7 linked regions of the Homo sapiens genome follow. The protein of the gene in region 7 interacts with the protein of the main gene of each other region in a pairwise test. Each region holds a gene or a part of one and is shown on either strand. Other genes may lie near its edges. The genes, in order: TMEM123, RAI2, PDIA6, PRR4, ADAT2, NAXD and SGTB.

What was found.
Region 1: the proteins of SGTB (region 7) and TMEM123 interact in binary tests that used the Homo sapiens proteins (3 or more experiments, as listed by UniProt).
Region 2: the proteins of SGTB (region 7) and RAI2 interact in binary tests that used the Homo sapiens proteins (3 or more experiments, as listed by UniProt).
Region 3: the proteins of SGTB (region 7) and PDIA6 interact in binary tests that used the Homo sapiens proteins (3 or more experiments, as listed by UniProt).
Region 4: the proteins of SGTB (region 7) and PRR4 interact in binary tests that used the Homo sapiens proteins (3 or more experiments, as listed by UniProt).
Region 5: the proteins of SGTB (region 7) and ADAT2 interact in binary tests that used the Homo sapiens proteins (3 or more experiments, as listed by UniProt).
Region 6: the proteins of SGTB (region 7) and NAXD interact in binary tests that used the Homo sapiens proteins (3 or more experiments, as listed by UniProt).

Annotation. Positions count from the first base shown.
Region 1 is NC_000011.10:102,449,522-102,454,552, forward strand, and holds the start of TMEM123 (porimin precursor), read right to left. Parts: upstream 3,245-5,031; 5' UTR 3,103-3,244; coding exon 3,003-3,102; intron 1-3,002. UniProt on the Homo sapiens protein: Implicated in oncotic cell death, characterized by cell swelling, organelle swelling, vacuolization and increased membrane permeability.
Region 2 is NC_000023.11:17,851,030-17,855,353, forward strand, and holds part of RAI2 (retinoic acid-induced protein 2), read right to left. Parts: intron 1-4,324.
Region 3 is NC_000002.12:10,785,247-10,789,017, forward strand, and holds part of PDIA6 (protein disulfide-isomerase A6 isoform d precursor), read right to left. Parts: intron 3,736-3,771; coding exon 3,651-3,735; intron 3,524-3,650; coding exon 3,451-3,523; intron 2,194-3,450; coding exon 2,035-2,193; intron 1-2,034. UniProt on the Homo sapiens protein: May function as a chaperone that inhibits aggregation of misfolded proteins. Negatively regulates the unfolded protein response (UPR) through binding to UPR sensors such as ERN1, which in turn inactivates ERN1 signaling.
Region 4 is NC_000012.12:10,846,293-10,851,077, forward strand, and holds the start of PRR4 (proline-rich protein 4 isoform 2 precursor), read right to left. Parts: upstream 3,184-4,785; 5' UTR 3,146-3,183; coding exon 3,082-3,145; intron 2,116-3,081; coding exon 2,080-2,115; intron 1,076-2,079; coding exon 771-1,075; coding exon of another isoform or gene 753-770; intron 1-752.
Region 5 is NC_000006.12:143,436,777-143,441,100, forward strand, and holds part of ADAT2 (tRNA-specific adenosine deaminase 2), read right to left. Parts: exon of another isoform or gene 4,277-4,324; intron 1,919-4,276; coding exon 1,814-1,918; coding exon of another isoform or gene 1,810-1,813; intron 1-1,809. UniProt on the Homo sapiens protein: Probably participates in deamination of adenosine-34 to inosine in many tRNAs.
Region 6 is NC_000013.11:110,624,889-110,629,212, reverse strand, and holds part of NAXD (ATP-dependent (S)-NAD(P)H-hydrate dehydratase), read right to left. Parts: intron 4,024-4,324; coding exon 3,935-4,023; intron 1,775-3,934; coding exon 1,666-1,774; intron 1-1,665. UniProt on the Homo sapiens protein: Catalyzes the dehydration of the S-form of NAD(P)HX at the expense of ATP, which is converted to ADP.
Region 7 is NC_000005.10:65,676,881-65,681,204, forward strand, and holds part of SGTB (small glutamine-rich tetratricopeptide repeat-containing protein beta), read right to left. Parts: intron 3,915-4,324; coding exon 3,776-3,914; intron 3,677-3,775; coding exon 3,614-3,676; intron 1-3,613. UniProt on the Homo sapiens protein: Co-chaperone that binds directly to HSC70 and HSP70 and regulates their ATPase activity.

The sequences.
Region 1 (5,031 bases), on a different chromosome or scaffold from region 7:
CTTTTCACAAAGATGAACTCTCCCCCACTTAAAAAAAAATCCTCCAAGTACAAAGAAAAGCAGTAACTTTGAAGGATTTATCTTTACTTCTTGGGCAAATTTCTTCTTTGTGAGAATTTCTTCTTCTTGATGGGACTATCATCTATTTATCACAAAAGGATACAGTGTAAGATTAACTTGAAAAAGATCAAGGTCAACAGACTACGTAGATGTATTTAGCAGCAGATAGCAAACAATTGCCAACATTATTAGGTGCTTACCACAAGCCAGGGTTATGTGCATTAGCTCATCTAACCCTCTCAACAATTCTTAGGAGTATTGTTTTGCAGACAAGAACTGAGGCCCAGAGAAGGCCGCCCAGATACAAAGTGGCAGAGACTGGAATTGGACCAGATAGTTTGATTCCTAAGCCTGCAGATATGAGTGCCAAAATGGAACTACTGATTTTCTACTATAAACCTGCTCCTCCCCCAACCTTCCCAATTGTTGCATTACCAGCTGCTCAACCCCAAAACCAAGAGGTCATCCTTTGATTCTTCTCTCTTCCTCATCCCACCCTCCAATCCATCAGCAAGTGATTAGTCCCAACCCCCCATAGATCTAGAATCCACCCTTTTATCTCCATTGCCACTCACCATCATCTTTTGGCTGGGCTAACACAACAGCCTGTTTTTGTTTCCCTGCTATTGTCGCTCTTAACGCGATGATTTCTTAATTTCTTGGCGACTTATTTGAACACTTGAATACAGCCATTTTCAAGCCACCTCAATCCTTGCACTTTTCAGTTACAAGTCAAAAAAGTCCCTTCTTTCCACAGTTGTTCAAGGTGGGTTTCTGTCACTTGCCACTAAGAGTAATGACTAACAGCCGCCCCTCCCATCCTGTTAATGTTAATGTCATTCATTGGAATACTACAATAAATCCTGTTTGCTGATTTGCAAACTTGCTCATAGTCTCCCTCCTCCTTCAACTGATATTTATAAAGCTATGCAGCTGACTGTGAAGAATATTTTAAAAGCAGAATTTCAATAATGTTTTTATCTTCTCCCACAATATTCTAGGCAATGGTAATACTGTGGAATAAAAGTATTATCTACTTCAAGAGCCATCATCATCTAACGCGGCTTAGTGGTGAAATGGTTAATTGAAAATTTGGATTTTGATCTGAAACCAAACATGTATTAATTGTTTTACTTGCCATAAATTAGCTTACTTATCTATAAAATGGGGACGATACTGTGAGGATTCAATGGGATGATTTATGGACCTAAATTAGCATAGCGTGGGATGCACAGAATATGTACCCAGTAAAAATCAGCCATTAAGAGTTTTAGTATGATGGCTAAAAATCACTATACTTCGTAATGACATTGTATACAGATTACACTATACATGAAGACTACGATTAACAGTTACTAGCTTTTTTGAGAAATCTTCTATTGTATACCTTTTAGTCTAGTTGCAAGGTGACATTATATAGTCTGTAGAAACAGATTCCACCTCTGGTTGGTTATACTAGTTTATGAATTCAGGGCTCGCCTACTGTAGAGCATTTCAAGTTTTGCAAATGGGACTAACCTCTAGTAAGACATTAAGTAATAAACAGAACAAACAGTGCTAAAATAGGGCAAAAAAAATCTGTGTTATCAGGGCAAAAGAAAGAAAAGCATGGTCACTCACAGTTTCTCTAATCGGTAATTCATTGAAACAGTAAGGCTTATCTTCACAAACACAGCAACAAATTTTTAAAAATGGAGACCTCACCTCATGAGATAATTGGTATAAAATTAGGACCAAGATACACGATGGACATGATTTTACCACTTTTTTTCTTAAATGATCTCAAAATTAGGTCTGCGAAGCCAGTTTGTCACACGCACAATTAAGCAAACAAAAAAACTTCAGCAAAACAAAGAAAAATTGTTAATTCACCCAGGTTATTCCAGAAAAAGCAAGTGTTGTGCCTGAACCTTCCAGATTTACAAACTGCCTTTTTCTTTTGCTGGATAAAACGAACCTAAGGCTAACATATACAGTGGATGGATAGAACTTAAAACCATGAAAACCTTGGGTTACTTAACTTATCCTAGTTTACTGACCATTACCTAGGGACCTGACTTCTCTAACAGTTGACAAAGGAAAACAGTATTTACACAACAAATCCCAACTTCCTGGTTTCATCCAAAAAGGGCTGTTTGAAGTCTCCAAAGGGCCAAGGGCCTAAAACGAAACAAATTCCGCCCTACACAGAAAAGCAAAGTCAACATCATCCTGTTACGACCTTACTAGCGACGACAAGGGCCACCGGCGACCGTGCAGCTGTGCCCTTAACGCTGCGCAGCTGCCGCGCGCCTCGGCCGGGTGTTTATGGCACACGAGGGGTGGAGAGCGCCCCGCCATGGGGGCGGCCGCCTCAACTACCGCGAGGGCGGGGCGCGCTCCCCAAAAGCTCCCAACTAGCTCCAAGAGCCCCGAAGTCTAACTTCGAGCGTCAGGGGGACCTAAAGATTGTAATTCATCTGGATAATACTGCATAATATTAGACGCTGAAATGCCTGGGGGACGCTTGAAAAGCTCCCCGACTAACTGGGAGACGTTTCCGCGGGCCTAGGTAGACATATTTTTCAACTCAGCTAATCTTGTTTACAAACGGAAGCCTTAGAAACTCTAACCTCGGCAAACATTAACTTCAGGGAAAGGCTGTAAAAACCAACTTGCGGTAACTCAACAGGTTATGCGCACCCGTCCCGGCCTGCGACCGCCGCATCCAAAAAGCGAGAGGGGAAGCACCAGGCAATTTCCTCAGCAGGCGGCCCCGGGGCCAGCGGGTGACTGGTCCAAACCTCAGTTTCCCCCACCCCGCCCGGTCACCTCTGGGTCCGCCCCGAGCGTTCGGCCAGACACACGCGGAACTTTCTGTACCAGAGCCCAACTTGGGAACCCAAGCCTCGGCAGCGCGCTGCCTCCCACGAACGGGGCTGACGACCCCCGCAGCCACTTACCCGCCATGGCTGCGCTTTCATGGGCGGCCCCCAGCAGCGCTAGCACCTGCAGCGTCCCCAGGAGCAGCGCGGCCCAAGCACCTCGCGCGCCGAGTCCCATTGTTCCGAGGGCAGGATGCGGCAGCCTCGTGGGCTCCCAGCCGAGGTGGCGGCGGCGAGAGCGGCTCCTCTGCGCAGCCGGCGCCGGCTCCGCTTCCCCTTCGGCCGCGCACGTTTCCCCTCCCGCCGCTTGCCCCCCGAATGACCAAATAGGGCGCAGGAGCGGGGCCTGGAGGGGGCGTCGCGTGCGCAGCCGGGGCGGCGGGGCCGGGCTGGGTGGCGCGGGGGCGGGCTCGGGGTTCTGGGCGTGGCGACTCGGCTCGCGGCCTCCCTCGCAGGCGCGCGCTTGGGAACCCCAGAAACCGCGAGCCGTTTCCTTTCTCTTCGGAAATGGCAGTTTTGTTGTCCTGGATGAAGGCGAGCGCCGCTGCCTCCCTGAATGCTGAGCACGCTGGCTTCGCGGTGCCCGGAAGGAAGCCTTTGAAGAGTAGTTTTGCGGGCAGGGAGGGGACAGGGGTGCGTGCGACTCAGAGTGAGAGGGAGGAGTTGCAGGGCAAAGGCGGGAGGAGGGGGAGATTCTGGAGAGGAACTTGAGGGGATGGGATTCACTCTAAGGAGTCCTGGGCGGTCGGAGCTTTCCCCTCGCGTGACCCAGCCTAAGGGGGAAGTGGAGAAAAACAGCTCGACAGATTTGTTGCTTAAATTCAAACGTAAAACACCTACGATCTTCTTATCCCAGTTGTACTTCATCTTCTCCACGGGTTCCCTGTATCTCTGATTAAGACACGAGATTAGTGGAGTGGGCGGGTGGGGGCGCGCGCAGGAGTTGGTAGCAACTCTCAGTGAAATACAGTAGAGCCATGGAAAGCGGGGGCTGCATTAATCCAACCAGCCTTTTCTCTCCTTGTGCCCTGCTGTCCCAGTTCAGATGAAATGGCCAGTTTTGAACAGTTTTTGGCTGAGTTCCTTTTAAACCCTTGGAGCCAATGCTAATCACTTGTCTTGACTTGAAGTGCTTGTAAAGTCTGCATTTTCATCGTGCTCAGAACTCTGAAGTGACATAGCTACCTGTGGCTAATGCATGAGAATAACAAAGGCTGAGTCCTGGCTTGGGTGGGAACCCTCAGCTGAAGTAGAAGACTGAAGGATCCAAGGAACCTAAAATCACAGTGAATCCCCACCTGCAAAGGTCTTAATGTTGCAGATCTTTGGCACCTGAGCCAGATTTCATCACATAAAGGCCACATTGCAGTTAACTTTTGAAAACTGTGTTATGAGAGGTAGAACTTTCTCATGTCAGGCAAATCCATCATTACAGAGGTCTGACTGGTCCTAGAGATTAACTGAGACAATCTGTCCTAAATTTACAGAGACTTCCATCTGTGGATTCAGTCAGCCAACCTGCAAATGTTTCCCCTGCAGCTTATCATGGACAAAAAGCAAGCATTGCACATTTCGATTTTGGTTATTCTATTTAACTGGGGAATCTGGTTTAGGAATAAACCGTTCTGGTGACTACCCCATTATCCAAGCATTTCCCAATCTAGGCCCAACCTGTCTTTCCAGCCTTGGTTCTGTTGCCCATGGAGAAGGGTGCTTTCTGGTTCCTGGCATTTGCATACGTTGTTCTTTCCTTCTGGAATTCTCTTCACCAACCCACAGCTAATACTTCCTTTAAGGCTCAGTGTACTTATAGCCTGGGAATCTGGGGTGGAATAAGAGGTCTGGATGTTTATATCCCCACCACATTCATGTGTTGAAACCTAATCCTCAAGGTGATGATAATAAGATGTGGGACTTGGGTGGGCATAGTGGCTCATGCCTGTAATCCCAGCACTTTGGGAGGCTGAGAAGGGTAGATCGTTTGAGGTCAGGAGTTGAAGACCAGCCTGACCAACATGGTGAAACCCCGCCTCTACTAAAAATACAATTATCTGGGCGTGGTGGGACGTGCCTATAATCCCAGCTACTCGGGAGGCTCCCGAGTAGC
Region 2 (4,324 bases), on a different chromosome or scaffold from region 7:
ATGGGACATTCTAAGATGTTTCCCCTTGCAGTTTTGGCTGTAAGCTTCAGCCCTGATGACCTCAAATCCAGCTGCTCAGCCTCTATGAGCACAAACAAAGCTTGGGGTTTCTGGTGTGGCTGTGTCGAACATGGAAGGGCAGGGCAGAATTGGCCTTTTCTAACCTTCTTAAAATGCCAGTGATAGACCAAAAAGGATCTTAGAACAAATGGCCCCATATTGATATTTTCACATTCAATAATTTTATATTTGGTCTAGAGGGCTAGTGATTCTTTTTTTCATAAAAGGAAATTGCATCCAGAGCTAATTGCTCAATCTGAAATGGATCTGGACATTGTTTAGATGTTGGAAAGGAAACGGTAACATTGTAGAGCTTTCACAAAGAGGGGAGCATTATTTTAGAACAAAATTTAAATGGAAATTAATAGGAAATGTAACTCTGTATGGTTTTCAAAGCTTTGATGTGCATAGTCGAAAGAGTATCCCTATTCTGTGCTTTCCTTGACATTTTTCTTGTTTATAAAATGCAATAGGAAATTCATCGGCACAGGCTCAATCCATTCCCATCCATTGATTGCTAGCCAATCAATGACCATTGTAATCTGAAAAAAAGTAACACTGGTTTCTATGACCCTTTCCAAGCACAGCACTGTTTAGCTAAGCTTAATAAAGAGAAAAACAGCAAGGACCATCTGGAAAACACTCTTCCGGAGTCTCGAAAGATAGTGGCAGCCTCTGCCCAACCTGCTATAAATAAGTGTCTCAGAAACAAAACAAAACAAAAAAAACACCCGATTTTCAAATCTGTTTCTACTTAATACAGCTGCAATAGGGTTTATTTAGCTTTTCCCTATAGAAGGAAGACTGTTTGCATTTTTATGACAAGTTCCTAAATGTTTTTCACAGCCATTTCCATTGCCATTATTTTGAGGAACAACATACCACTCAGATCTGTCTGTTTGCTTCTGCACACACAGCGGTGGCCCCAGTGGCCTCTGCACCACGAAACTGGCCTCCAACGCCCAGATTTATGATCCTATTTCCTCTCCCAGTGTTGCAACCATCACCTGAATCCTGGCCTGCAACGGACTGGCAACTTAGAATGTCCAAGTGTCACGTGCTACAAATCAATTATTTATCCGCCTGAGCCCAGCACACTGTGGATCCCTACCAGCTTGTTGCCTCTCTCTTCATGGCGACAAGGAAGACTTCAACTACTCTTCAAGAGATGCTGGAACTCACCAATGAAGTGTCGCTGGCTTGCCAAATCCCTCAATGCTCACCTTTCCATTTTTCCTCACTGGCTAGTATGCAAGGGAATCCTACACATGACACTCTTTGGAAAAGGTCAGCCTACCTTGGATGGCTGCAAAATGAAGTGGCCTATGTTGACTTCTGCACTGAACAACTGCCCCTATCCTTCACCAGCATCCCCTGCTCCCATATCACTCTCAGAGGCTGGCAGGGGAGGGCTAACTGGGGAACACTTTCCCTGTATAATGAGTGATCCACTTCTCTGCCCTCTCCCTGCCCCCCAAACACCCATTCCATTTCCATGTATGGGCAGGGCATGGTTTGCCCGCATGACACCTTCCTTGTGTAAGGCATGACCCTCCTTTCTAGCCTTTCAAGGGACTACCAGAAAGAATATGGCTGAGGGCTTGTCCTGGTGGCAACATTTCATCTGCTGTTGCTGCCTGTAGGCATTACCAGGTGCTAGCTGCCTGAAGGAGAATTGCTTCAAGGAAACAAATGTGTGTAAAAGGAAACAAAATTGCCAGGGGTGATGGGGGCTACCTGAATTTCAATCATTACGAAAAATGATCCATCTACCGAGAAAGTACTGTTGACTTTCTCTCTCAATAGTACTGGAAAACATGGAATTTAGTGGTGGGTAAAGGGCTGCTACAATCTGAAATGAGTCCATTACAATATTACGAGCAGAGCTCTCACAAGTACACTAAATGGCTAAATCAATTGGCTCGGGCTTAAGATGCTACCGGAGAAATGACAGTGGGGAGGGGCTGGGGGTGGGGGAAGATGCCTGCTGACTTTGAAGTCATGCCTGGAATCAGGTGCATATGAAAAAGAAATTAGGGAGGAATAAACCTGTTCTCTTTATGAAAAACCAGAGAAGCCACTAGTTCTTACAATGTGCCCCCCAATCACCTATGACTTATAAAATTGCCTGCCTTGAAAAAGTCTCTATGCTTATACAATCTTATAGACCCTTCCACCAACCTTAGAATTAAATCACGCACATGACCCACTTCCAACCGTTAATTAATCATGCCCATGAATTGTATTTATAAAAGTCAGAGGGGGAAAATTGTGTCTTTTATTATGTCAAATGGAATTTTCCAAAAAAACACAAAGTACTTATTAAATTTTGGTCTAGACAAGTGGTCTTCAACAGGGCTAATTTTGTCCCAGAGGGGACATTTGGCAAGGTCTAGGGTAGGAGGATGTGGTGTTAACGGTATCTAGTGGGTGGAGGCCAGGGATACTGCTGAACATCTTAAGGTGCATGGGACAGTCCCCTGCAACAAACAATTCTCTGGTCTAAAATGTCAACAGGGCCAAGGTGAAGAAACCATGCTCCAGATAAAGCCAAATATGCTTGGCCTTTAACATTCATTTTTTTTTTAAAAAAAGGGAAAGGATCCCATTTTTTTCAAAATCTAAGGCAGGTTTACATATATGTTGACTAACATATTTACTCCTTTTCCATATAAATGAAATAGGTTCTCCATCTGAATCTAGGAACATTAAAGAAATATTGTGATGATGGTGGGGGTAGGTATGGGATATTTTAAATGCATATTTCATCAGTCTAAATGGGTGGAAATTAATATCTCATAAAATAAAATGATTATCTAGTTATGTTCCATACAAAACCAAAATCAATACACTGTATCTTACCTAAACTGCAATTAGAGTTTTAAAAAAACTAAAACAAGGAAATGCTATTCTTTCCCGTTTTTTGCTAGCTGGGCACACACTTCTGAGCATGAGGCATTAAAAAACAAACAGGCAGACAAAAACCTTATTTTTTTAAAAAGACATATTTTTCCAGAGCACAAAAAGCTTCCTGAATCTTTCCTTGTATTTACTGTAGATTCAATCATTCCTTAGTGAGCAAAACATGCAGCCCATTCTCTTGGTTATGCTTGCCTGGCTTTCCAAATGCCCTCAAAACTAGGATGATGAATCACATACTTTGGCCCCATTGTGCCAATTAATAGTAAGCAAAAGAATTCCACACGGCCAAGATAGGACTTTCTGCCTGGTTGTGCATACGGGGGTGGGGAGGGATTCTTCAGCCAATTGCTTTCAGAGAATCTTAAGAACAGGTGTTTCAGTTCCCTAAAATTCCTTTCATCCTAGAACATTCTATGTGGTTCTGCAGTGCCCCCACTTTGGGGATGGGCTTTGATCAGGAAAAACCTATGTTCATACAGTCAGCCTGGAGCTTCCAGGCTTAAAGCACGAAGGAAAGAATGGCTGACAGCTACACCATTTCAACCCTTCCAGGCCTCCATTTCTTTCTCTGAATTATAAGGGAAAAGTGGCCATACACACAAAGGCAAAAATAACAACAACAATAAAAACGCCCAAACACACCCAGTCTTGGCTGCCAGCACGGCCCGATTCTGCTGCTGAAAAAGAACAGTTGCTACAGTGCAGCTGGAGGAGCTTTTCCAGGGAACTGGTAATACCCTGGCTGTTAATGAATTATTTTTCGCCAGAATGTCGGATTCTTCCTGTGCTCCAGTAAACAGTCTGCTTCTGCCATGTGAAACAAAACCAACTCCTTCTGAGGAGCCCAAGGGGGTCAGCCAAGGGTCCCCTGTGAGGGCAGCCCCCTCAGGAGCCAGAGCCACAGGCGCCTGACCTGTAAATCACTGCAGTCCCAAGTTCATTATCCCATCCCTTTCCGTCTATTTATGCCATGACCAGTGCCTAGGGAAGGACCCAGAAATGATGTGATGTGATGATACCATAGTGCCAGCCAAAATCCTTCTTCTACCTCCCTGAACTCTCCTTTGGCCAGGTTTCTTCATCTGCTGTGCTATGGTTGTGTGAAATTGACCTTCCTTGCATTTATTCTGTCTCCCTCGCAGAAATTTTATTTATGTCCTTGCTCTTGTTCTCATCAAGCTGTCAGGAAATGACAGTGTGCATTCTCTTTTTTATTTTCTCTCCTTTAAGGCTGGCCCTGGCCCTAAATAACCCACTGTCAGCATGAGGGTGTCTACTGGCGACATTACTCTCCAAGCACAAATCCCTGGGATGGATAGTACTTTAAGCTGCTACTAGAGCA
Region 3 (3,771 bases), on a different chromosome or scaffold from region 7:
CTGCATCAGATAAAGTCAGTTGCTATCAGTAAGCTTTTAAAAATAGCAGAGCATTTGCTGAAATACAAATTAAATACATAAATAATTATCAAAGTTGATCTAGAACATGGGCTGCCTGCGAGCTTTCTAAGACTGCTGTGAACCTGTACAGAGGGAGCATATCAGAAGTGAGGCGACTGGTTCCAGTGCGCTGGCAGAGAGCGGGGTGCGTATGTGCATAAACATCAGTACTTGAAACATACCAGACCTGGTGTAATCTGGCTGTTGGGAAACCAGAGCCAGAAATACTGTGGGCACAAATATTTAGAGTTCACCAAACAACTCATAGAATAATAGAGCTAGACTAACAATCTATGGCACCAATGGGCTAGAATAAGCAAACCTATTATTAGAAAAAAAAATTACAGGAGATATATTCACATTCTGACTTCATGATTTAATAAATACTACTCTATGACAATCACAAACTTAAGCAGTCCACAAACTTCTTTTTCTTTGAGACCAAGTCACACTCTTTTGCCCAGGCTGGAGTGCAGTGGTGTGATCTCAGCTCACTGCAACGTCCACCTCCTGGGTGTGCCTCAGCCTCCCTAGTAGCTAGGACTGCAGGCCTACAACACCACACCTGGCCTATTTTTTGTATTTTTAGTAGACATAAGGTCTCACCGTGGTGGCCAGCCTGGTCTCGAACTCCTGGCCTCAAGTGATCCGCCTGCCTCAGACTCCCAAAGTGTTGGAATTACAGGCGTGAGCCACCGCACCCAGCCCCACAAACTTAATGAAAACACCCCCTTGGCCAGGCGTGGTGGCTCACACCTGTAATCCCAGCATTTTGGGAGGCTGAGGTGGGTGGATCACTTGAGGTCAGGGGTTTGAGACCCGCCTGGCCAACCTGGTGAAAACCCATCTCTACTAAAAATACAAAAATTAGCTGGGCGTGGTGGCAGGCGCCTGTAATCCCAGCTACTCAGGAGGCTGAGGCAGGAGAATCACTTGAACCCGGGAGGTGGAGGTTGCAGTGAGCCGAGATCGTGCCAGCCCGGACGACACAGCAAGACTCTGTCTCGGGGGTGGGGGGGAAAGAAAACACCCATTAACCATATTAACCAACTACAATGAGAGAGAGCTGGGAGGGAAGGAGCCACAGTCTGCCCCCCGCCGGCAGAGGCTGAAGCAGCTGATCTCACAGGGCTTCCTCCATGCCTCCCACTTCACTACTCAAGGCAGAGCTGTGACTGAGGCACCTGACTTTGGAGCCCCTACTCTCCACACAGCACACACACACGTCTCCACACAGCACACAAACTTCTGTGTCAAGTAGGAAGACTGGCAGCAAGAGCACTGCAGGCTTTCATGTACTGTTCTTCCTATTCATTATTCAACACAAGCCTCTCAACTACCTTTTGTGTGCTGAACATCTCTTATACAGCAGCTAAGAAATGAACGCGGAAGAAAGCAAGAATGGGAAATAAAACCTCTTTAGGTCAATGCCCTGTATTGCCTAAAAGATGATTAGGTGAGCTGAATAGCAGAGCAGAGTAGACAGCTCTGTATATTGGTTTTAGAACCTATCATGTTGTTTGCACATTGTTGGAGTAACTTAAGTACGCCCATTTTCAAATAAATAACTACATTCCAAAGCCAAGTGCCCAGAAATGGAAACCACATTTCCCCAAGGTCAAGATTACAATGCATATGAGGGTGAGGATGGACAGACAGGGCTGCCTCTAGCCCATATGAGACCTTTATGAGAATGAGAAAGAGCCCAGGGCCAGATGCACAGAATGGCACACAGGGCGGCCCGAGGGTAGCAATGCTTTCTCCTCATCCCGCAAGCAGAGTATTCCATGGAAAAAAGAACGAACAGGGAGACAATTTAAAAACTCTAATGTATAAACATTCAATTCTCTGGAATTAGTTTGCATTTTAAATTCCATTTATTACCTGGCTTATATATACCTAGTTCCAAATATAAACCTACAACAGAACCAAACAAACAGACAAAACAACAAACAACCTAAGAAAACAAATTACCTGAGAAACTCGTTGATGCCTTGCTCACTGAAGGAGCCTTTTAGCAGAGCAAATTTCATCTTGCGTGCATTGATGGCGGCCATGGCGGGGTACCCAAACCCTCCAATCCCCAACGCGGTCTCAAGTTCAGACTGGGCTCCAGCTTCTGTCCACAGCCACCTAGAAAACCAGACTGGTTTTTAGGGCAAATATGTCTTTTAAATTGCTTACGATCTAACTAGAAGATCTTAGAGAACAAAAGATCACGCTTCAGATATTTCGTAGAATGACAAATAAAAACAAAAGATGAGTTTCTATATGGATTTTCCCTTTTTACCTGAAATCCCACCAATATCATTTGGGTTATTAAGCATGTTCTCGCGTTCTGTAGGCATCTAATAAACATTTGCTGGACTAATGGAGGAGGAGCAAGGTCATCGAGAGAGGGACAACAGGGGGCGCTAGGTACCTGGGGAAAGCAATGGATACTGAGGACAAGAAGCAAAAAGATAAATAGGAAGGAGGCTGGGCACGGTGGCTCACGCCTGTGATCCCAGCACTTTGGGAGGCCAAGATAGGTGGATCACCTGAGGTCAGGAGTTCGAGACCAGCCTGACCAATATGGTGCAAACCCCATCTCTACTAAAATCACAAAAATTAGCCGGGCATGGTGGCGTGCGCCTGTAGTCCCAGCTACGCAGGAGGCTAAGGCAGGAGGATCTTTTGAACCCGGGAGGCGGAGGTTGCAGTAAGCCGAGATTGTGCCACTGCACTCCACCCTGGGCAAGAGAGTGAGACTCTGTCTCAAAAAAAAAAAAAAAGGATAAAATAGGAAAGAGATACACTGTTTTGAAAATGTGCCTAGATCCAGTCCTTAACTCAGAAGAGGAGAAGGAAACAATTCTATTTCCCCTTTCTCACCCAGCCTTCAAGTTCACAGTAGAATTCAGGTGCACTACTCCTTATGTGTCTGCCTGCTAACCTGGCACTCCAATCACCATGTAAAACATGATTCCTATGAGAAAAATGCATGCTGTGCTGACAGCCCTTCATTCCTTCTTTTCCTCCCATGATAAAGTTTTCACATCCTGAATAAAAACATATAGCAGAGCAGGCCGGGTGCGGTGGCTTACACCTGTAATCCCAGGACTTTGGGAGGTGGAGGCAGGTGGATCACTTGAGGTCAGGAGTTTTGAGACCAGCCTAGACAACATGGTGAAACCCTGACCCTACTAAAAATACAAAAATTAGCTGGGTGTGGTGGCGGGCGCCTATAATCCCAGCTACTTGGGAGGCTGAGGCAGGAGGGAAAAAAAAAAAAAACATATAGCAGAGCAAACATAGAACACAGCTTACAAAAACACGGGGGAACCACTCTCAAGAAAGCCTATAATCAGCTGTTCAGATGACACTCAGACAGTAAGCTCAGTAACTTACCCCCACATTTTCTTTTTGTATTTGTCTGCCAACTTCAGAAGAACTTCCAGATAAGAATTTCTGCCTGCAGCTCCTGATTTAAATAGACAAAGTTTTTTAAAGGTAAAGATAAAGGAGTCCATAAAATTAATCCATTTAGAAAGTATTCTCAGAGCATCTAGCATAGAACAGCTAAGGGAAATCATTTCCGTCTGTCTTACCAGTATCAAGGATATGGGGCAGCACAGCCACAACACAGAGCTGGTGCTCCTCACACGTCCTCTTGGCAATGTCCTCGTTGATAATCTGTGGGACCCAAAAGACAAGGGACAATCAGGAGGC
Region 4 (4,785 bases), on a different chromosome or scaffold from region 7:
GTCTCCGTGAAATGATAAAGTTGTCTAAGACATGTATTATTTGAAATAAGCAAATACAGATCTGCATATAAAATAATATGTCATTTGTGGGAAAAATAATGACGTATGCTTATATACATATAAATATTTCCAGGAGGATGTTCAAAAAATTAAGGGTGGTGACTTTTGGTGAAGGGTGTGGGTAAGTAGGATAAGGCGTCACTTTAAGATTTAGCTTCATACCATTCTGTTCAGTTAGATTTTTTTTTCCTTGAGCATGTACTAATTTCAAAATAAGTATTTTAAAAATTAAATAAGATATAAGAGCATCAAGTTCAAGTATCATTTAGCAGGGACACTGGACCTGAGAGGCTAGTGTGAGGCAGGACTGAGCAAAGAGTCCTCTGGCGGAAACCTGAGAGAAACCTGAGATGGAGAGTCCTTGGGTTTGAGAAGGCAGACTCAAAGACAGGAGGCAGAGCACCAAAGGGAGAGCACACCCCACTTCCTCATTACCAACTCATTTTAATGAGACAAGTCATCTTAAGAAAAAAGTTGGGGAGGTCAGTATTTCAAAAGATAAGAATTCTTTGAACCACTTGTTAAAAATACAAGGACTTGCAACCTTATCCAAGAATATCTGAATACAAATCTTTAGAAATGGGGTCCAGGATTATGTAATTTCAACATATTTCCAATTGATTTGTGAACACGATAAAGTTTGGGAATGGTAGCAGTTTGGGCATTTAATGGAGAATGAACTGGAATCATACCTGCCACTGAATTCTAGATTACCAGAGTGGTTGCTCCTGGGGATGTCTTGCTGGTCTGTCCCTCTGGAAGAATGATGATGCTTCCTGCAGGCTGACAGAAGGAAATCGGGGTAGAGAGAGTTGACGGTGTCCTCGTCGGGGTGGTCGTTGCTGATTTTGAAAAGGAGGTGGGGGAGGATGGCGGTGATGGCCTCCTGGTTTTGGTGGTCTCTGCTGAGGACCATCATCTTGGTTACCACTATCACCAGGGGGTCTAGGTAGGAGTCCTTCAGGAGGAGGTCTCTGGGGTCCCTGATCTGGTCTCTGACTTGAGTCCTCTACATCTGTGTGAGTAATTAATGGACAAGAATGCATGAGCTCAGTGAAGAAAAACTCTCCTCTCTTTATACTTCTCTCACCTTACCACACAGCCCTGTTCTCCCCAAACCTGCTGCTTGACTGTCAACTTCTTTTGTGCCCACTGTTTTTTTTTTCTTTTTATGCAGCTCTCAACTTAATCCATGTAAGAGTGATATGGAAAGTCTCATTTATTTGCTCCTGTGACAAGTATGTTTCCTTAAATGAAAAGAGGGGTTCTTGCATATCTTAGAGTTGCCAGAGGATGTCTCCAAGGACAGAAAAAAAAAAAAAAGCAAAAGCATTATAGCTTTCAGTTATGTTACTGGTTATTTTTTATTTTTATTTTTTGGTTGCTGTAATGACTTACAAACTGTGACTCCATCTCTGGGCACCTAAGCCCTATGTGGAAACTAGAGCTGATTTCCCAGGCTCCTGGAACCAAGTAGAGAAATACTAAGAGACAGAAGAGAAAGACAATGTGAAAGCCTGCACATGATCACTAAACAGCTGTGGCAACTATTTATCATCTGTAGTGACACAGCTGAGTGGGTCAACACAGAGAAAAGACATTCATGCAGTGATTTTTTTGTTTTGTTTTGTGTTACTCCCTGAAGCCACATAACCGTGCGGGGGAACACTGGGGGAAGAAAGAAGCAGTTAAGGATGGAGGAGTCAGAATGAGAACACTTCTCATTTGTTCATCATCTCTCAGCAGTCATTCCAGCCTGGGAAAAAAGCCTGCCCACTCCTATTGTCCTCAAAGCCAGGCATCTCTGTATTCAAGTTGGTGGCCTGGCTCATGGTCCCCAGAATCAAAGATGGGTAAGAATTGCCTATATATTTAGGGGCACTAATATTAATCAATGCCTGACCCCTCTTACCACCTCCTCCCAAAAAAATGATGAGAAGAAGACACTGAAGGAAACTAAAAAGAAATTCTAGTGGAAAAAGAAAGAAAAGAATTGGATTGAGGATCATTGGGATTTACCTGGTATGGTGAAAGTAAAGTCTTCATAGTTCACATCTAGGAAAAGAAGCACAGGATGAAGTGAACATTACCTCATAAATCTTTCAGGGCTCATAGTGGTCTATAGGGAAAGGGGTCTTCTGGCCACACCCTGTGCATCCCCTAAGTTACCTCATCAACCATGTTCTGTGAAGCTGCTGGAAGGGGAGGAAGATGTTAGGGGAGGCAGGATTGTTACTATCGCTGAGCATCAACCACGAATTCAATAGAAGAGTCCCTTTTTGTCATCCTTAGGATCCCTCAAACCCTAATGCTAATTTAGGCACACTTCTCTGGGTATTTTCATGTCATATTTTAGATCTTTACCTTCTTCCTTCTTTAAATATTTTGATCATATTCACAAGCTTGCCCAAGAGGAGCAACCAGGAGTAAATATTTGGATATAATCTTACACATGCTGCCTGCAACATATTGAAATTTTAAATGTGATTGGAAGAAAAATGGGAATTTGGGGACCTGATATTTCTATACCACTATGTAGAAAGACACAAATGTATTATCCAGTCCTCTATGTCTGACAGTACTCTGATGTTTGTTTATCTCTTTCATTGATTCTGCATCCCCTGTACAGCAAGGACACCATCATCGCTGTCCACTGAGATTACTGTAGCATCTTCATAGCTGGACTTCCCTGGATCAGTCTTGCATTCTCCACTGCATCCTTCACAGCACAGCCAGGTCTTTCTAAAAATACAAATCTTACTTTGTCATTCCTCTAATTGAAATTCTCTATTGGGTTCCAAGTGTATATCAAATAAAGTATAAGGCCTTGGCATGGAATGAGGGCACAACAGATGTCATCCTTGGAATGAGAGCTCCAAAGCCCTACCCTTCTTCTCAACCTCCTTCCTCCCCTCCTGCTCTTCCGCTGCAGTGGTGTAGGGTGAACCCCTGAGGCCCTAGAAGAGTCATGGCCCCTCATCCCACTCCCCATCTCCTTTTTTAAAAAAATAATTTTTTTACCATTATCTGTGCTCTGAGCTGAGCTCAGAGCCAGAAGGACCACTGAGAGCAGGACCAGCAGCATCTTGAAGGAGGCTCTGGAGTTGCTCCCAACTCTGCGTTGAGAGAAACATGGCAGCTCCCTTTATAAACATGAGCAGAACAATGGCACCTTTGAGCTCCATACTGGGTGGACCTCACCACCTGAAAGATTAGGTTTTGCTTTCCTCTCATAAAGTTGAATGCGTCTCTTATTACTTTTTGGGATTTTAGCCCAGCAGGATGTGGTGGTAGGATGTGGTTAGGTACAAACTGTGACTTGAGCATAGTTTCTGAAGAAACAGTATCCAAGCAATCAGCACAAATACTACAATTGAAGTTTGGTCATCATTTGATTTTCAATTGGGTTAGACAGTTAGTCTTTCCCCTTCATTGGTTGTCTGTGTGCACACGTGCTTACGTTTGTATATGTTTGTCAGCAGTGATCTTATAGCCAGAAGTGAAAATGATTAATATCTCTAGCTATTAGTGTAGCATAAATTCCATTTTTATAGCATATATACCTATATGGATGATATGTAGCTTAATTTCATAATAATATAGAGATCATTTCTGTTTAATGTTGAGTTGTGTGAGGACAACACACACTTGGGCACACGTGGATGACAGAAGTTTTACCCTCAGGCTACTCTGGCCCAAAGAGATTAAGATTCTCCTAATCTAGCATTAACCAGAGATACTTTATTGTTGTAGAACACAGGTATTAAAACATTCTATCTTTATTAATACCCTGGAGGTTAGTAAGGCAAAATTGGCCACAGAAAGCACCATTAGATTTCTGCATCAGAACAGTGTGAATACACAGTTCCTTGAACAAGCCATGCTATTTTATGTCCCTAAGACTTCTTCCATGATCTTTCTCTTTTCTAGAATGTTCTATATGATTCAGTTTAGGTCTTACTTCTTGTACCAAATATTTTAATCACACTGGTTATTGAGTGGACACAATAATACAATCTAATTAGATAGTATGATAGCCTGTTGAAAGCCTCAAGTATTACATTGATTTTCTATTTTTTAATTAGTTTCCATTCTATTTGCTTCTCAGATTGCCTTTACCAAAGATTATTTTCTCTGCAATATTCTTATACTCATTCTTCTTCACTCTTGTGCTGAACCTTACTTGTTGATATGTTATATTGTGAATCAATCCTCCCTATGTCTATGTTTTATATCTTACTGCTTTCTTCATGCGTTCTGGGAGAAATCTTTATTTGATTTTCTAAACAAGGTTCTGTACTTCTCTTTGCTTGCTTTCTTCTTTTTTGTTTTTAAAATTTGGCACCAAGGTTTTGTGTTTCTGAAAAGTTTGGTAGGGTCCTGAGTTGGTAGCTTAATCTTCACCTGCTGATTTTTCTGTCCTATCTAGTAGTTTTCTGCTTATATTTTCATGGAACCCCTAGATCAATCAGTATCACCAGCTGCCACTTTTCATTACAGGCATTGTATAGGTCTCGTATTATTGTTACATTTTTGTACAGGGCTGGTGATAATTTGAGGATAGCTTGGTTGGAAGTATGACAGGGTCGGGGGAATGTGACTGGAAATCTTAAAGACAGGCCTCTTGACCATTGTGGATAAGTGGATCCTGTGCTGTGCAGATGAAGGTCTGGTCTGGCAATTCTGAAGGGTTGGAGGTAATATTACAGGAAGATTTTCTAATCA
Region 5 (4,324 bases), on a different chromosome or scaffold from region 7:
TGATAGTCATGTCTGTGTGGGCACTTGCTGTTCTTGCTGTGTGTTCACCTCTATTAAAGCATTTCCATAGTAAAAAAAATAAATAAATAAATAAAAATTAAAAGTATGACTTACATATATTCATGCTTCTCACTTATTACAGGGTAAATTTAAAACTGATTCATTAAAAAGTTGTCTTTTTCAAGAATTCAAAGGACAAAGAATTTTGTGAAATACTATATTTTTATTTAAGTGTCTTTTTTCTTTCTAATTCTACACTTCGATCTACTATTTTTCATAAGCAAATTGATAAAAAAGTTTTTTTGGGGGGCTGACATATTAACTACAGATTTTCTATGCAGTGAACATGGTTATATATAAATCTGAATTGTCCAACTACTTTGTCGGAACAGTTCCTATTGATTGGAACTGCTAGGGCGAAGTATATGCAAAATCTACATTTTGAGTAAATTTCCTATAATCAATGTAAGCTTTCCCAGTGTTTGAACGTTTCCCATTCCCTAAAACTGTTCAAACATTAGATATCAGTATTTTTAATCACTGATAATCTAATGTTACAAAGAAATTGCTTTTTTCTTCTGTTAAAGTTAAGTTAGATCATCTTCATGTAGCCTTATTGGTTGTTATTTCATTTTCCTCTGTTCCTTTTATTTTCACTTCCCTTGTAATATTAGTCTCTCTGTTACTGATTTCTAAGAACTCATTTCTGATTAAGGATGTGAACATTTTGTCAAGCATTGCAAATGAAATACCATGTTTATTCCAGTTTATTTTACTGTGGTGTTTTATTTTTTTGGTTGTACAGAAGTTACGTATTAAAATATAATCCTGTTCTATTTTATGGCTAAAAATAAATAAGTAAATAAATGATTTGTGAATCTGGATTCCTATTTTACATGTGTTTTGCTAAATATCAGTTTTCTTTTCAATAGATGTGATTGATAGATGAACTAGTTCCCACAGCCCTGGTATCAACACCAGCTTATTCTCTGGCTCCCAAAATCATATGACAAGATAAAAGTCTGTGTGAATGGCATTACAGGTATAAGTGATCTTTGAGTCCACCTAGGAATTTTTGTAATCATAAAATTTGGTAGTTTACTTATACTTCCCAAGTATACTTATCATGACACACTATTGTGATACCATGTTTAAGAAGCATTGCCTTGAACCATGAACTTCCCAACCTAACCACAATAAAAGTCATACAAGCTATTAAAATGTACATGCTACATGTAGCTACAGAGGCAGCTGGTGTTGAAGACCCTATTTTGTTGAATTATCTGATAAAGGAATAGCTTCCTTTATATAATCCTCATACCTCCCTCCAAAGCTATACATTGAGGATACTTTTTTAACTTACTAGGATGAAAATATTATTTAAAGGTACTAAAAAAGGAATGTATTATGAGTTAAATTGACCTATTTTATAAAATGAAAATTTCATATATTAGATTGGCTTAAAGTAGAGACAGACTTGTTTCTTCCATGCTGACATTCTGATGAAATAAAATCCCCTCTTGGGTTTCACTCAAGCATTAGAGTAAAACTCTATGAAACAGAAAATTATTCACTAAGATTTTATGGCTTCATTAAATTGTTCTGAATTTTCCACAATAAAAAAAATCAACATGTATCACTTTCAAAATCAGGAAGAAAATGATACTGAAAAAGAGAGACGTTAAGAAAAGCTACCCACCACTGGCAGCTACGGGACTATATTCAGTCTCACCTTCACACCAACTGTGGTAAATTCTCTCCAGTCCACCCATCACTACTGTATGTTTGCAATTATACTGCTCAACTCACATACATTTTTGGTTTGGTTAACTTCATTTCTCCCCTTCCCTACAACTTCATTGTTGTAGACCATAAGACAGCCAACAGGAACTTCAGTATTTTCGAGGGCTTCTTTGGCCTGAAACACAAAGTGGAAAATGTAAGACGTAATACTCCATACTTGAAGAGAGTATAGGAGAGAAAGAGATGCAGCATGAACAAGATACACATGTACAAAGACTGAAACAAAGAAGTGCAGCCTTCCCTTTTCTGGAATATAGTTCCATTACGGTATTTAGTGCCCGTGTTCTGTGTTGTGTCCATGTTAAGGGAGACTCAAAAAAAATCCCCTTGATAGGTCCAGAGCCCCTGATGTCTTCTCATTGGAAATAGACGTGATCAAAGGAGACTGTGACTGACCACTGTTCTTGAAGTGCCAGGGTCTATGTGTCTTTTCAGAGATAGAATACATATTTGCAAAAAGGTAGGGGACTAAATAACACTTATAGATCCTTTATTACAATCCTTTCCTCACTGAAATTCCTTTGCTTCTCTAAAAATTATAGAAATTATCCTCTAGAGTCCCAATAGCTAAAGGTAACCAGACTGGATGTCACCCTGTCCCACAATTTCTACTCTATGTGAGACAATAAGAGTTTAGAAGTACTCTATGTAAAATGGCACAATCATTATGAAAAACGTTTTGGAAATTTCTTTAAAAAGTAAACACACACACAGTCTATAACAAAATTCCACTCCTAAGTATTTAAAAGAAGGGAATATGTGTCTACAAAAAAAAAAAAAAAAAGAAGAAGAAAGAAAGTTTGAAAAAGAACCAAAACCTTGAAAAAGAATGTTAATAGCCAAAACCTGAAACTGCACAGGTGGCCATCAACAAGAAAATGGATAAACAAACTGTGTCCTATTCATATAATGGAATACTAGTCGGCAATAAAAAGGAACTACTGATACTGTGACAACATGGATGAGCCTCATAGACATGCTAAGTAAAGGAAGTCACACACAAAAGCACACATACTATATGATTCCTTTTGCACAAAGTACCAGAATAGATAAAACTAAACTACAATGACAGAAACTGGAACAGTGGTTGCTTCATGGAGGAGGATGTGCAGATTGATTGGGGAGGTACACAAAAAAATTTTCTGAGGTGGTGAAAACTTTCTGGATCTTGATAAAGACATGGATTACAGAGATGTTTGCATTATTCAAAACAGATTGAAGGATACATTTACAACCTGTGCATCTCACTGTATATAAAGTATACCTCAACTGAAAAAAATCAATGAGAAAAACAAGTTTAGGAACACTTCCATGACTACCATCCCAGGAATGGCAAACCAATTATTATATTCTCAAAGTTCCCTTTATCACAGGCCATTCGTTTTTCTTCTTGTCCCATGATAGCAGCTCTGGGCCCTAGGAAAATTAACTCTACCTTCAGGCGGAGAGCTTAAGCAGGCAGGTTATGCCTCAGTATAACCTGATACTGCCTCTGAGAGTCAGAATAAGGGAAGAGTACAACCCTTGGACTAGTGTACATTCATTCCCATCTCAATGCAGTCAAAAGAATATAACTGCTGTACAGCTGTTTCCAGAAAGGCAAGGTATTCCTTACTGTGGCAGCCCTGAAGAGACTTTGGAAGACTTGATTCTCACTTAAGTGCAGGTACTTACACACATCATAGGGCATATAAAGTGCAAAGTTGAAGGCATTGTTAAAACAGTGTCTTCTGTCTCCTGCACCAGTCTCTTACTCCCAGTTCTACTTTATTTAACTAGTGACAACTTCCTATTATAAGGCATACAGGATTTCCTCAGTTATTCCCACCATGTTCAACGGACACTTATTCTTCATTTGGCCATTAGAGGAAAAAGGAGACGCCCACAGCAGGAGCAAACTGGGCCTCTCTTTTCTCCATCTGGTTGGTGGGTCAGAGATGGGGCATGGAGAGATGTGAGAAGACAGTATCTGATGCAGTAAGACTGCATTCAGGACTATTTTATGAACTATCCACAGGCCGGTTGTGTCCCAGTTCTGTGACAGTGGTTAAAGCATGTCCAGTTTATGCAAGTTCAAAAGGCTTGAAGAGTCCCGAGGTTTGGTTAATATAGACAAATGCACCATAGGCTACTATAGAGAAGAAAGCCAGGAAGAAGACGGACAGTTAAGGAGAATGGAAATGCTAACTACCAGTGTAGCTATGGCAATTATTATACTAAGAATTTTATTTAAGGTAAGTGTAGAATTACACAGAGATCAAGGTACACAGAAGAGACAAATCATTTATTCATGCAAAAAATATTTGTTGAGGATCTTGAGATGGAGAGATTATCCCAAATTCAGGTGGGTCCTGAAGGCACCCACAGAAGGCAAGAGGCGAAGTGATAACGGAAGGAGAGAGAGAGAGATTTGAAAATGCTGCACTGCTGGCTTTGAAGATGGAGGGATGGGTCATAAATGTCACTTCAGTACCTGGAAAAGGCAGGCTTCCAGAAGTTATTCGGCCCTGCCAAAACTTTG
Region 6 (4,324 bases), on a different chromosome or scaffold from region 7:
TGGGGCTATGAATAGGAATCTACCTAATCGGGTTGTTTTCAGGCCTACACCAGATGATGACCTCATTCAGGAACGTCGACGAAGTAGGAAGCCTCTGCTCCGCACCAGACACGAGCTGGAAGCTGACGAGGAGGCGGCAGCCCACGCTAGATGACCTGAGGGCTCTCAAGACCACGGCAACAGTGTACAGGAACCAGAATGCAAGGTCCAGAGTCTGGGCTGCAGGGGCAGCGACGCACACCCTCACTTCCCACCTTTCACACTTCCACGCAGTACAGTGGTTTTTTAAGATACCAGTTTTTAAATTGTGAACTTAAATTCACAAAGAAAATAACCTGAAGCAGAGCACTCTGGCTCGTTCACCTCTAATTCATCCGCACCCCCAGGATGCAGAGCTGGACAGGAAGCAGCAGCCGTGCACCGCAGACCCGCAGCCTGCAGATGGGACTCCCCATTGAGAGCCTCTCCCCGGGGATGACAGAGGGTTCTACTGCTCCTAAACATGGCCACCTCCTCCTTCCCGGTGAGCGGGTAAGACCTTAAAGCTCAAAGACGGGCTCCCGTGCTGACTCCACGCCGCTTTTCCTGGTCTGTGCAGTGTCAGCCTGCGTCTGCCTGCCCCTCAGATGACTCATCCTGCACTGCTGGCTCCATCACTCGCCGCCTTCAAGCCCCGCAGCCTCAGAGACCCCTCCATTAACTAAGCACCCAACAGAGTGCCATGCAGATGGCTGGCATTTTCAGGGTGACTGCTGATCTGGGGAACACAAAATGGCCAGGCACCTTCTAAGGGCTTCAAGCGTAGTCCCTCACTAATGCCCGGCCTCTGATCCCCATGCAGTCACCACGCCTTGCACATGTGAGCACCCTGTGGCACCAAGCCATCTGGCACACTGTGTCTTCCCCCAGGAGCTCTAACAGGGGTCCCCCGGAACTTGAGAAAGGGTCTCAGAGGGCAGCCCCACAGGAGCACAACCCCCAGCAGAGACACACCAGCCCAGGGAGCGTCAGAGGACGCAGGGAACACAGAGCTGGCAGCCATCCCCATCTTTTTATCGCCCCTGATCCCAGGTGGTATTTATTTACAGCAGGCACAAAGTGATCAGAATAACTTTCATCTTTTGGATTTAGGTGGGCATAAGATGAACTTTAAGAAAGAAATACCAGCATAAATGAGAGTCCATGCGCATATGCATGTGGGCACGGACAAGCAGGCCCGTGTCACCTCACAGCCTGATGTCAGCAGAGCATGGCGCCAGGGCTGTGTGGGAACAACGGCCCAGGAGGCTGAGGGAACCCCAGGATCCCCCAGCAAGAAGGGGGTGGCCTGGGAGATACACCCAGGCCTGACCCCAAACCTCTGTCACCTCCTCAGTCCTGCTCACCCTCTCCTCACATCAGACATAAAACAACTGAGCAACTCCACACACACACCTCCTGCAGCTGCTCCATGAGAAAACAGTCGGGCCCGGAGAGAAGCACATCTCAGCACAGTTCCTCCCCACCTTTGCACTCAGTTTCTCCTCCGTCCCTCAAATCTTATCTCAATCATGCCACAAAGAGGCACACGGAACACTACACAAAATGCAAGAGAAATGCCTCTGTTCCAACTTCACGCCTAAGGCTAAGCCTGTCATGAGGGAAGTGAGTGAGTATACACATTACCTGGACATTTCTGAGAAGCGCATCATCTCTACCCAAGCCAGGTCCTACGACAAGAGCATGCAGCCGGGGCAGCCACTTCTCCACCTCATGAACAGCATTGGGGCTGTCACTAAAGAAGGAAAGGAAGGCCAGGATGGTTACCCACAATTCCTCATTTACTTACTGTCATGTATTTGTTTACATTTTATTTTGAAAAAATAACTTATAAATAGTAATGACTTTTAAATAATTTCTGTAATTTAGATTTATTATTTAATCAGTACAGAAGGCTCCCATGTACCCTTCGCCTAGCCTCCCCGAGGTTAACGCCTCACACACCCACATTCCGGATCAGCATGACCAAGTTCACATTGGTTAATACTATTCATTAAACCACAGCATTTTCCAAATTTCCCATTTCCTCTTGATGTCCTCTTCCCATGTCAGGACCCAAACCAGGCCCCACACTGCATGTGGCCATTGCCTCTCCCTGATCTCTCTTTTAATGCCCAGATTTACATGCCTAGCTTTCAACAGTTACGACAAGTTAGAAAAAGAACGATGGCTATTTTCAAAATCATCTTTGCCCTCTAAAGTTAGCCCGTTTGTTTCCATCACATACATGTGTGGCTGTAAAGCCTACTTTGTGTGCTTATAGACCAGGCCCCACACAACGCACTGACCCTGCTGCAGTTTCTCATTCAGAACAGGGCAGGGGTTTGCTTTTTCAGAACTCCTTCCTGTTCGGTGTGACCTCTCCTAGAGCCCACTGTTAAGGCTTCTGTCCCCTTTCCTCCCCGACAAGCTCCCTTGTCAGGGTCACCCCGCACTGTGAGATGCACCAACTGTTCTCAGGCCTCATCTCCAACTGACCCAGAGTCGCACACACAGGCCCTTCTGGAGCTGTCTGGAAACAGCGGCTTCACTGACTCCTGGAGGCCCCTGCTGCCTCCTCCCCAGCCCGTGCTCCCAGCATCTGAGTGCCAAGTCCCCCCTGCCCCCAACCCCAGCCCCCCTCCGCCTCTTACTCCCTCGTCTTCCAGCTTTAAGCACCGTCCACATGTGCATGACTCCCAAGCCCGTGTCCCCACTGTCCAATGCCCTCTAGCCACGTCCCTTGGATGTCTAACTGGCAGCCAAACTGCGCCCTACACCCAACGCCTCATCTTCATCCCACCCAAGCCCGTTTCCACCACATGGAGTGACCACTCGCTCAGACCAAAACCCTTGGTGGAGTCTGTGCCCCTTGCCTTTTCCAATCCAATCTGTCGGCAAATTCCACCCCCAAACTTTCCAAACATACCCAGAATCCGGCCCCTCTCACCATCTGACTGCACCCTTCCCTCCCACAGGTCCTTACCACAGCCTCCGGCCCAGCCCCACAGCCGCGTAGGAGCCTTTATGACCCACACTGGCCCTGCCCTGCTTACTCAGGGCCAGAGCCACAGCCCTGACAGCAGCCCCACACCCTGTGGGGCCCAGCCCTGCACCTCTTGGTCACCCGACACATCACAGCACCGCACCTGGAGCTCCGCGCCGGCTCCTCTCTGGTGTGGAGAGGCCGGGCTCGACCCAGGCGTCATCACACTGTGCTGCCGCCCCAACTGCCCCTCTGCCCACTCTCACAGCCCCCTCCCTGCTGCCGCTCTCTACGGTTCCTTCACCACCTGACATCCTCCTCTCCCTTGTCTCCAGAGCAGCACAGCCCAATCCAGTCGGTGCAAACACACACAATGAAAAGTAAACAAGAGCAAACGCTCTGCTCCCGCACCTCCCAGCCACATTTCAAGCCCTCAGTGGCCACAATCCTGGACGGCAGAGAGAACACCTCCACACAGCAAGCTCTATAGCATAGGCGGTCTGGGGGAGCCCCACGGGGGCAGGTTTTTGCCTGCCCAGTTCCACGCTGACCCATGGAACACAGGCTAGGGCCTGGCACCAGACATATGTGCCGAGTGCAGGAAGGGTCTTGTTATTGCTCAGAGGCCCTTCGTTTCCACCTTCTGCAAACCTGTCACACACAGCCCACAGGGCCTCCCTGCCTCTGGAGCTGGGCCCCGGCCATTTCCAACAGGCCCAAGCTCCCCCACCCACCTCTCCACCCCGCCGTCTCTGTCTTATTCTGACCCCAGAAGAACGGGCTCCTTCATTTCCCTACTTCCTCTACAGCACCTGCTGAGAAACTCTGAGGATGGAAAATCCATCAGGACGCTTTCGGTGTCAGTGCCAAAACCCCAAATGATGCAGGAGGGAAAGAGAACCTACGAGAAGCCGGCGCAGAGCGACTCACAGAACTGGGTGGACGATCAGCTCCGGGCTGTAGGCCTTAATCACAGGTGCGGCCGCACTGGCACAGAACACGTGGGACAAGTCTGCGCCCTGATGAAGGAGCACAAGAGGCCGACTCAGGGATCGCTCCGGCATCGCTGCCCACCCGCCAGACACAGGCGTCCAGCGCTCATTACTCAGCCCTGGTGACGTGCATGAGAAACGTACTAGCTCGGATTACACCCAGCCAGGTGGCTTAGCAAAGGGCCAGGGCGCAGAGCACAATACCTAAAAAGAAAGACTTTTGCCGCCACTGCAGAGGCAGGGTCAGAGCCACACACACCAGCACGGCCCAGCTCGGTCTGGTCACCCTCCAGGAGGAAGGGTCACAGGAAGAGGCCGGCCGTTAGCA
Region 7 (4,324 bases):
TCCAGTTGACAACCTAATATCACAAATAAAAGAACTAGAGAAACAAGAGCAAACAAACCCCGAAGCTAGCAGAAGACAAGAAATAACCAAGATCAGAGCTGAACTGAAGGAGATAGAGACACAGAAAACCCTTCAAAAAAAAAAAAAATGAATACAGGAGCTAGTTTTTTGATAAAATTAATAAAATAGACCGCTAGCTATACTAATGAAGAAAAAAGAGAGAAGATTCAAACAAACACAATCAAAAATGATATTACCACTGACCCCACAGAAATACAAACAACCATCAAAGAATAGTATAAACAGTCCTATGCGCATAAACTAGAAATTTTACTAATGAATTTCTAGAAGAACTTGATAAATTCCTGGACACATACATCCTCCCAAGACTGAACCAGGAAGAAATTGAATCCCTGAATAAACCAATAATGAGTTCTGAAATTGAGGCACTAATAAATAGCCTACCAACCAAAAAAAAAAAAAAAAGCCCAGGACCAGACGAATTCACAGCTGAATTCTACCAGAGGTACAAAGAAGAGCTGGTACCGTTCCTACAGAAACTATTCTAAAAAATTGAAAAGGAGGATCTCCTCCCTAATTCATTCTATGAGGCCAACATCATCCTGATACCAAAACCTGGCAGAGATACAATAACAAAAAAGAAAACTTCAGGCCAATATCCTTGATGAACATTGATACAAAAATCCTCAGCAAAATACTGGCAAACTGAATCCAAGCAGCACATCAAAAAGCTTACCCATCACAATCACGGAGGCTTCATCCCCAAGATGCAAGGCTGTTTCTACATATGCAAATCAATAAATGTGATTCATCTCATAAACAGAACTAAAGACAAAAACCCCATGATTATCTCAATAGATGCTGAAGAGGCCTTCAAGAAAATTCAACATCCTTTCATATAAGAAACTCTTAATAAACTAGATATTGAAGGAACATACCTCAAAATAATAAAAGCCATATATGACAAACCTACAGCCAATATCATACTGAATGGGCAAAAGCTGGAAGTGTTCCCCTTGAAAACCAGCACAAGACAAAATACCCTCTCTCATCACTCCTATTCAACAAATTAATAGTATTGGAAGTTTTGGCCAGGGAAATGAAGCACAATAAAGAAATAAAGCATATTCAAATAGGAAGAGAGGAAGTCAAATTATCCCTATATGCAGATGACAGGATCCTATATCTAGAAAACCCTATTGTCTCAGTCGAGAAGTTTATTAAGCTGATAAGCAACTTCAGCACAGTCTCAGGATACAAAATCAATGTGCAAAAATTGCTAGCATTCCTACATACCAACAACAGGCAAGTCGAAAGTCAAATCACAAATGAACTCGCATTCACAATTGCCATAAAAAGAATAAAATATCTAGAAATACAGCTAACAGGCAAAGTGAAGGAACTCTTCAAGGAGAACTACAAACCACTGCTCAAGGAAATAAGAGAGAACAGAAACAAGTGGAAAAACACTCCATGCTCATGGATAGAAGAATCAAAATCGTGAAAATGGCCATATTGCCTAAAGCAATTTATAGATTCAATGCTATTCCCATTAAACTACCATTGACATTCTTCACAGAATTAGAAAAAACTATTTTAAAATTCATATGGAACCAAAAAAGAGCCCAAACATCCAAGGCAATCCTAAACAAAAAGAACAAAGCTGAGGCATCATGCTACCCAATTTCAAACTGTACTACAGGGCTACAATAACCAAAACTGCATGGTACTGGTACAAGAACAGACACATAGACCAGTGGAACAGAACAGAGAACCCAGAAATAAGACTGCACACTCACAACCATCTGATCTTTGACAAACCTGGCAAAAGCAATGGGGAAAGGATTCCCTATTTAATAAGTGTTGCTGAGAGAATTGGCTAGCCATATGGAGAAAATTGAAACTGGACCCCTTCGTTATACCATATATATACAAAAATCAACTCAAGATGGATTAAAGACTTAAATGTGCAACTCAAAACTATAAGAACTCTATAAACCGAGGCAATATCATTCAGGACATAGACACAGGCAAAGATTTCATGATGAAGATGCCAAAAGCAATTGCAACAAAAGAAAAAATTGACAAATGGGATCTAATTAAACTAAAGAGTTTCTTTTCCACACCAAAAGAAACAATCAACAGAGTAAACAGACAACCTACAGAATGGGAGAACATTTTTGCAATCTATCTATCTGACAAAGGTCTAATATCCTACATCTATAAGAACTTAAACAAATTTACAAGAAAAAAACAACCCCATTATAAAGTGGGCAAAGGAAATGAACAGACAATTCTCAAAAGAAGACATATATGTGGCCAACAAACATATGAAAAAACAGCTCAACATCATTGATCATTAGAGAAATGCAAATCAAAACCACAATGAGATACCATCTCACACAAGTCAGAACAACTATAATTAAAAACTCAAAAACAGGCCAGGTGTGGTGGCTCATGCCCGTAATCCCAGCACTTTGGGAGGCTGAGGCAGGCGGATCACCAGAGGTCATTTGACTAGCCTGGTCAGCATGGTGAAACCCCATCTCTACTGACAATACAATAATTAGCCAGGCATGGTTGTGGGTGCCTATAATCCCAGCTACTCAGGAGGCTGAGGCAGGAGATTCGCTTGAACCCAGGAGGTGGAGGTTGCAGTGAGCCAAGATCACACCATTGCACTCCAGACTGGGTGACAAGAGTGAAACTCTGTCTCAAAAAACAAACAAACAACAACAACAACAAAAAAAACAAAAACCAACAGATGCTGGCGAAGTTGTGGAGAAAAAGGAATGCTTTTAACACTGTTGGTGGAAATGTAAATTAGTTCAACCATTGTGGAAGACAGTGTGGTGATTCCTCAAAGACCTAGAAGCAGAAATACCATTCGACCCAGCAATCCCATTACTGGGTATATACCCGAAGGAATAGAAATCTTTCTACTGTAAATACACATTCGTACGTATGTTCACTGCAGCACTATTCACAATAGCAAAGACATGGAATCAATGCAAATGCCTATCAATGATAGACTGGATAAAGAAAATGCGGTACATATACACCATGGAATGCTATGCAGCCAAAACAAGAAATAAGATTATGTCCCTCGCAGGGACATGGATGGAGCTGGAGGCCATTTTACCATTTTACTTAACAAACTAACACAGGAAAAGAAAACCAAATAACACATGTTCTCACTTACAAGTGGGAGCCAAATGATGAGAACACAATGACACATGTAGGGGAACAACACACACTGGGGCCTGTTGGAGGGCAGAGGATGGGAGGAGAGGAAGGATCACGAAGAACAGCTAATAGATGCTGGGCTTAATACCTGGGTAATGGGAGGATCTGTGCAGCAAACTACCATGGCAGACGTTTTACCTATGTAACAAACCTGCACATCCTGCACATTTACCCCTGCACTTGAAATAAAAGTTGGAAATAAAAAAACAGAACCCTGCTATAGCCTTATATCAATACTCCACTACAACCACCACCACAAAAACTCACTTGTTTCTAAAAAAAATTGCATAGCTACATAGTCTATGGAAAACATAGCCAGTAGAGGCAGAAAAGAAAGTATACTCACCATACTAATGAAGGCTGGATTATTTATCAAGCTAGCCATGTCAAAGCTCAGTCCAGTTCCTGTCTGTAAAACAATTATATCTGAGAATCAGTCCAGTATCTACAATTACAATAAATTGTGAATGACAGAAAATACTTCACTCATTTGGCATTAACAACTTACAGGACTGGATACCTCTCTTAACTTCTGTTCTGCTATTTTCAGATTTGACTTATAGGAATCATTTTCAGGGTCAAGATCTAATGCCTTTTGATAACTTGTAACTGCTTCTTCAAATTTATTCAAGGCAGTGAGGGCCAGCCTGAAGGGAATAGAATATAAGAATATCAGATATATGATTAAAGAACATCAGGACATCACAAACATCGTCAAACGTCTGTCTGTCTTGGTATTCAGTTCTAATCCAGATTACACTTAATTTATTCACTGTACTATGGCTCACGGGAGCAAAATTCCCTCCAACTTAAGATTCTATATATCTGAACTCACTCCATTCTGCTTGCTGATAACCTGGTTGTCCTATAGATCATGAATTTAATGCTTAGAGATTATCTTACTTACTCTACCATTTTTAAGCTTAATATGTAAAATAATTTGCTTTATAAATGCCTAGACTAAGTTCCAAAAGATGTGAGTTGACAATCATGTGGTCACATAAATCCATGATGCTAACACCATTTTTAAGGACTCTAAACTGTATTTGTGCTTCAA